Homo sapiens: one gene and its partner. The protein of the gene in region 1 interacts with the protein of each later gene in a pairwise test. Each region holds a gene or a part of one and is shown on either strand. Other genes may lie near its edges.

Evidence for each region. The genes of interacting proteins can lie anywhere in the genome.
Region 2: the proteins of CRY2 (region 1) and VWC2 interact in binary tests that used the Homo sapiens proteins (3 or more experiments, as listed by UniProt).

What each region holds. Positions count from the first base shown.
Region 1 is NC_000011.10:45,857,425-45,861,083, forward strand, and holds part of CRY2 (cryptochrome-2), read left to right. Parts: intron 1-1,306; coding exon 1,307-1,449; intron 1,450-3,423; coding exon 3,424-3,608; intron 3,609-3,659. UniProt on the Homo sapiens protein: Transcriptional repressor which forms a core component of the circadian clock.
Region 2 is NC_000007.14:49,919,522-49,922,587, reverse strand, and holds the end of VWC2 (brorin precursor), read right to left. Parts: 3' UTR 638-3,066; downstream 1-637. UniProt on the Homo sapiens protein: BMP antagonist which may play a role in neural development. Promotes cell adhesion.

The DNA of each region.
Region 1 (3,659 bases):
GCCCTTTTTCTCCCCCAGCAACTCAGAGGCCAACCCACTTATATCCCAGAGATATAGCTAGGTCATCCATTCAGTCATGTAATGTATTTTTATTGAGCTTCTGCTAGGTACTAGGCCCCATACTAGGTATAAGGGTAATGATGATGAGTGAGACAACATGGTTTCTGCTCTGAGAGTTCACACTAATAGGGGAAACAGGCAAGTGTATCATTGTCATATAATACATGCTGCAGTGGAAAAAAGACAAGGTGCAGAAGAATTATATTGAAGGAGGAGGTCAAGAAGGCTTCTTGGAGAAAATGTAATTTAATAATATTGTTATTCACAGGTTACAATGAGTATTCAGTGATGTAACCTATATGAACTATAAGCATGGTACCTGGCATATAGCAAGGGCTCAATCAATGTTTAATGCTGATATCCTCGAATGAGGGATAACTGGCCCTGCTAAGGACCCAGTCCCCGGGCAGGGCTGAGTCAGGACCAGACCAGCCTGTGCATGGCTAGGACATTTGCCCCTGTGGTTCAGAGCTTTCAGAGACTATGACCAGAGACTTTGGAGAATGTGTTTTTCTTCTTGCAAGTTGCATGCTCTAGGGCTTTCTGTGGGTTGACTGTACAACCATTCACTGGGCCAGCTTGCTATGAGATCTAGAAATTCCTACCAGAAATGACTAAAGGCTTAGGAAAGAACTTCCTCCTTTTCAACATGTAGCCCCTCTGGTCAGTTTCCTCTGACCTCCAGACTAAGGATCGCTTCCCCTTTCCTGACTCTCTCAGGGCTGGAACCTATTAGCTCTGTTTGCTATTGGCCTCAGGAGTGTTGCTGTGGAAACAATTAAGACACTTCACATAGCACAACTCTGCCAAGAAAACTAGGCCACAAGTCTGCAGGGCTGTGAGGAGCTCTGGGAAAAGCTTGCTGAGCAGGCAGAAGGCTGTGGTCCTGTCCCACCTGTGAGTCAGTGCCACTCTCTGGGACTGGGGGTTTCCCAGGAGCGTTGTATTTATGGCCTCCTGCTGCATTCTCCTACCTCAAGGACACAGCAAGTGCACAAGGCTGCCTACCTCTCTCCCAACTCCACTGTTGCTGTGCTGTTGGCTTCGCCACACTGCCTGCCCTCCTCAAACTTTCTGAACCTCAGCTTGTTTGCTTTCCAGATCAAATCCCTGTTCCTAGTTTTTTCTGCTGCCCATCAGATAGGTCTCTAGACTAGCTCTGTTCTCTCCCAGGAAGGAACTGAGAGTCCAGCTTCCCCCTCCTCCCCAAACACAGTGTTGAGCATAACAGATCCTCTCCCCACAGGAATGGGGAGTGACCCGCTTGACCTTTGAATATGACTCTGAACCCTTTGGGAAAGAACGGGATGCAGCCATCATGAAGATGGCCAAGGAGGCTGGTGTGGAAGTAGTGACGGAGAATTCTCATACCCTCTATGACCTGGACAGGTAAGAGATGGGGCCCAGGGATCAGGTTACCAATTGTGAGAGTTAGTAATTTGGGCCCCTGCTGAGCGGAACTCAGAGAGGTTCAGCATTAGGGCTACCTGACCCAGGAGGCATGGCATCTTCTAGAAGCTGGAGGAGAATAGGCCAGAGTCAGGACCTGTAGAACAGGTCACAAAGAGCTTTACCCCATTGAGGTGGCAGAGAGGCTTGTTAGGCCCAAAGCATGGAAGCAGTGAGGACCCACACTCAGGGTATTTACAAATCTGCTCCTAGTATGCCCGAGTCCCACCTGTGCCTCATATTCCCACTTCCATCCTGCTCAACAGCTGCCCTCTGACCTCAGTGGACCCTGTCTGTTACCCCTCCAACAGACCTCTGTTCACACAGGTCCAGTTTTTGTACCTAAGATGAGTTCCTAGGCTGGGCATGCTGGCTCATGCCTGTAATCCCAGCACTTTGAGAGGATCACATGAGTCCATGAGTTCAAGATCAGCCTGGGCAACATAGTGAGACCCCCGTCTCTACTAAAAATAAATATATTAGCCATGCATGGTGGGACATGCCTGTAGTCCCAATTACTGAAGAGGCTGAGGTTGGAGGATCACTTGAGCCCAGGGGCTTGAGGCTGCCATGAGCTGTGATCATGCCACGTCACTCCAGCCTGGGTGACAGAGCAAGATCCTGTGTCAAAAAAAAAAAAAAAAGAGTTCCCAGGTTCTATGACTATCTGGGTTTCCAGGCCATGTTGCTTGGTGGCGGGGAGGGCTCTAGAGATCCCTGCAGGGAGCTGCTAACTACAGAGGAGCCTCCTCCCCTGGTGACAGCCTCTGTGCTTTCAGAGATTCTAGGAGGAAATCCTCTCCTCCCCTTCCCTGCCATGCCAGAGCTGTCACCCTCCTGCTGCTGCTGCTGCTGTTGCTGCTGCTGCCAAGCCAGCAGCCGCCGCCGCTCCCCACCCCCACTTCCCAACCCAGTGCTGGCTGCCAAGAAGCCAGGTCACACAGCTGTGCACGTGAGCCGGGCCCTCAGGAGGAGAGGCTGGGTGTGGAGATCCTCCTCCTGCTGCGTGCCAGAGGAGAGGGAGGCATAGCAGAGGCAGCAGCCGACCATATATCTCCACTAACGTGGGGAGAGCAAACTGAGAAATGAACTCACCCAGCCAGATGGGCCTTGCGTAAGCTACTTCTTGGCCAAGAAGAGCCCCGGGAATGTGGCTCCATACCATCCCAATTCATCCTTATATAAACAGCCTCCGTTCTCTTCTTCGCCCTCTGATACTCCTTCCTTCTTGCATGAGTGCAGTTATGTTTTCCCTGGTCATGAAAAATACTTTGTAAACTACAAGACTCTCTTTAAGTATCAGTTGTGGCTATGAACTCTAGCTCCAGTCTCTGAATTTGGGAGGATAAGCTGTCTTCCACCTCTCTGTTCAATGTTCTAATAAATGGAGGCTAAGAAGGGGATGATTTTCCAAGAAAGGAACATGTCTGCTATTCCTTATGATGTTAGAGTTAAAAAAAAAAAAAAAAAAAACATGTCTTCAGCTCTTATCAAAGAACTTTCTCCAGGGCTTACATGGGTGGTAGAGGCCTATGGGGATTCCCTTAGCTTGGACAGATAGGCCAAGTGCCAAGCAGGCTAGTAGGGATTTTTCTGTGATTAGAGATTTTGTCAGTCTCTGTCTTTAGGCGGCTCTGCGTCAACACCAGGGAGCCCGGAATTGAGTCCCAGCTCTGGCCCTGCCTTGCTCCATTACTGAGGCACCTGCTTCAGCTCTCTGGGCTTTATTTTCCCTCTCGGTAAAATGGAGATGCGGCCTCCCTTGCCCCCTCCTTTCCACTCAGGCATGGGACCTGTGAGTGGATGAGGAAAGCCACCCTCAAAGCCTTCAGAGTCTGGGTTCTTTTTTGGGTGGGCAGGGACCCACATCACAGGGCCATGTGGGTAACACTAGCTATGCTTTGGGCTCCCCAGGATCATTGAGCTGAATGGGCAGAAGCCACCCCTTACATACAAGCGCTTTCAGGCCATCATCAGCCGCATGGAGCTGCCCAAGAAGCCAGTGGGCTTGGTGACCAGCCAGCAGATGGAGAGCTGCAGGGCCGAGATCCAGGAGAACCACGACGAGACCTACGGCGTGCCCTCCCTGGAGGAGCTGGGTGCGTACTTCCTGCCCAGAGCCACTTGTGCTGGTGCCTGCTTTTGTGTAA
Region 2 (3,066 bases), on another chromosome or scaffold:
AACTCTAATTTGGGCTTTTCCAGCCGTTGGTCTGGTAGGTTTTCCTAAGTATTTAGTTCTCCACTGGCTTCAGGAAGAACTGTCTATTCTGCCCAGATTTTCCAGTTGCCCTTGGCAGAAGGATTGTTCTAAATTGCCTAATCTTCCAGTTCCGGAATGGGAAGTTCGTAGCCTTAAGAAAAAATACTTTTTGGTTTTAATTTATTTTTTAAAAAGCCTTTCTCCAAGCCAGCGCAGAGGAGCCTCTAGAGTGTTTCCATTAAAAAAAGAAATCTGAATCTAAGATATTTACTTACTGTTAGTCCATATTTCTCGATATGAGGTTTCATAATCATTACATTTACTTTTAGAAATGACAAAGCAGAAATGTATTATCACAGTCAATTCCGTGGGATATTATATTATAGATGCTACTTCAGGGTACAGCAGTGTCCATCTTTCATTAAATAAGAGAAATAAAAGTTACATATTTGAGTGAGCCTCAAGGATTATATTTTAAATAACTCAAAATATTTAAAGCATTTTAAGTATTTTTAATGACGTATATACATTTTATTTATCTTGCTTAATCTACTTTCAAAAGCTAAAATATTTCAAAGGATTATCTTAAATGTGACTCTACCTGGAAGTGCAAAACTCAGTTTAATAAATACTTTATTTTATAAATCAGGTCAATACACATACCCATCCAACAATACATACAAATTCGGCCTAATTATTTAAATTCAACTCCACATAAAATTAAGGTATTACAAAACATTTTTCTGGTAAATATATATATAAATGGGATAAAAACTAAGATATAAATTATATGTGTTAAATGTAAACATGAGGATAAAATATTTTTCAAATGAGCACTAAATTAAATTATTCATTTATTAGAATCTTCAAAATGTTCAAGTCTCATATTCCAATGTATTATGTTATAAACACTTTACATAGATCTTGTGCTTTATAAATATCTATTCTAGGCTACGTGTTTTACAAATATTCACTCATTTAATCCTCTTAGTGGTTGATACCACTCTCCCCATGTTACTGATGAGCAATCTGAGTTACAGAGAGGTAGGTAACGTGTACCTGATAAATAACCAGTAAGTGGTAGAACTGGGATTAGAATCAGACCTCCAAAGGCCAAAGTCTTTACTGCCAAGTTACATTAAAGCAAATAAATTGCAAACGTTTATTGAGAATACTTATGATATAAATGTTAAAAGGATGCTCTGGCCTTTGTTTCTAGAGACTATGTCTCTATAGCTATGGAGTAAGGCTCAGGCCAGGGATGGGAACAACTCACCTATGCCTTTTAACTCCTATCATCTCTGCTGGAAACCAGACCCATCCTCCAGCCAGCATGTTCTCACCCTGGTTTCCTGAAAGCATCATGGGCATTCCCTTTTGATCAGTTTGCTCTCCTCTTTTCCCCTCACTTGAATTCCCTTTGGTATCTTCAACACTAAGCACAGTGTTCTCCATCTGTCAGATATGCAGGAAAGGTGGTGACTGATGATTTATTAGTGGTTACAGTTGTTAGGTAAAATTGATGTTGTTTAATAAATTTGTACAGGACATGAACACTTACTGGAAAACTTTCACCAAATAATTTATAAAAGCATATCATTATTCTCAGTCTATAGAAACTGTCAGAAATTCATAAATGTAATAAGTACAACATTTTAGTACATTTCCCCTATAACAGTCTATTAGAAATGAAGACAAAAAGCTATAATTTTACATTCATCAGGTACCTTGTAAAGCATCACACAGACTTGGTAAATGATGTTATTTAAAATGACTTTTTTTTTAAGTTTTCAAATACTGAGTTTATGGAATAAGTATTTAAAATTATTTTAAACAATTCAAATTATAAATAGTAAATAACACAATTAAATACATATGTGTTTTATTCATGCTATATTTATAGCTATGTGCAAATAGTTGTGAACTTTATGTAGCCGTATTGACATAGACAAATGAGAATAGCAAACTCGGCCAAGCAGAGTCTCTCTCTGTTCCCTTACATCCTTCACTGCTTAGGTCCAGCTTTCCGTGGACTTAAGTCTGACTTAAAAGGAATTTCTTGCCAACAATGCAGTGCTTCTCTTGTCTTTTGTTTGTTTTGTTTTGTTTTAATCAGACCCTTGCTTATATTTATATCCACCTTTCCTATCACAGCAAATTGAGAGAGTAACTGTTTAACCATTTGTATAGATGCATGCATGTATAGAAAGATGACCTTCCAGCTGGAAAATTTACATCATTCTGAGGAATAAATTTAAAGGAAAATTATCTCATCCAAATACCACTTTTATTATTTTCATTTTTTCCTTAAGAAAAGGATTCATCGTGTATTAAAATGTTTGAGTTTTTTAGTCATACTTCTTAATATTTTAAATGTTTCAGACAAACCTCTGTTTTGCTCTATATTGCTCTGTTCCATTTTGCTTCCATATCCAAATTAATGTCTCCTTTTATTTTCTCTCCTGGTTATTATAATAACATGATTTGTCCTCTGAAATGTAGGTATGCTGTTTATTGTACCAAAAAAAAACACCATTATGTTTATTTTAAAGACATTTACTTTCTTGGCTTCAATAGAAGGCACAATTTTGAATCTCACTTCAGTGTTATTTGTAACAAATATTTTAAGGTATCAGTTGGCCATAATTAATCTAAAACCTACAAAAACATATATAGAACATAATGATTTTTGTATCAAGCTCCTTTATTGCACTGATGCCTATCTTAAAATGAAAATCTTTTTCTTGAGAGAAAACAGTCAGAGCAGGTGGGAGCAATAGATAGACCTGGCCGGTGGCAGCTGAGCCCCCTGGGGATGAGTGGGACTACCTCTGTCCACCCACAACCTTCACCATTGCTGTTATTGTTTGGAGTGGGGACAATCTTTGTTTTTGTTTTAAGAAATAGCATACACCTTGAAACTACAGATTTAACATTATGTAACATGGGTAGATTATTTTTATAATTAATCTATATTAAATTAAATTGGGGTTTGTGAGGATTTTTTATTTAATCCTCACAATAAACCAGGGTATACTGCAGAGT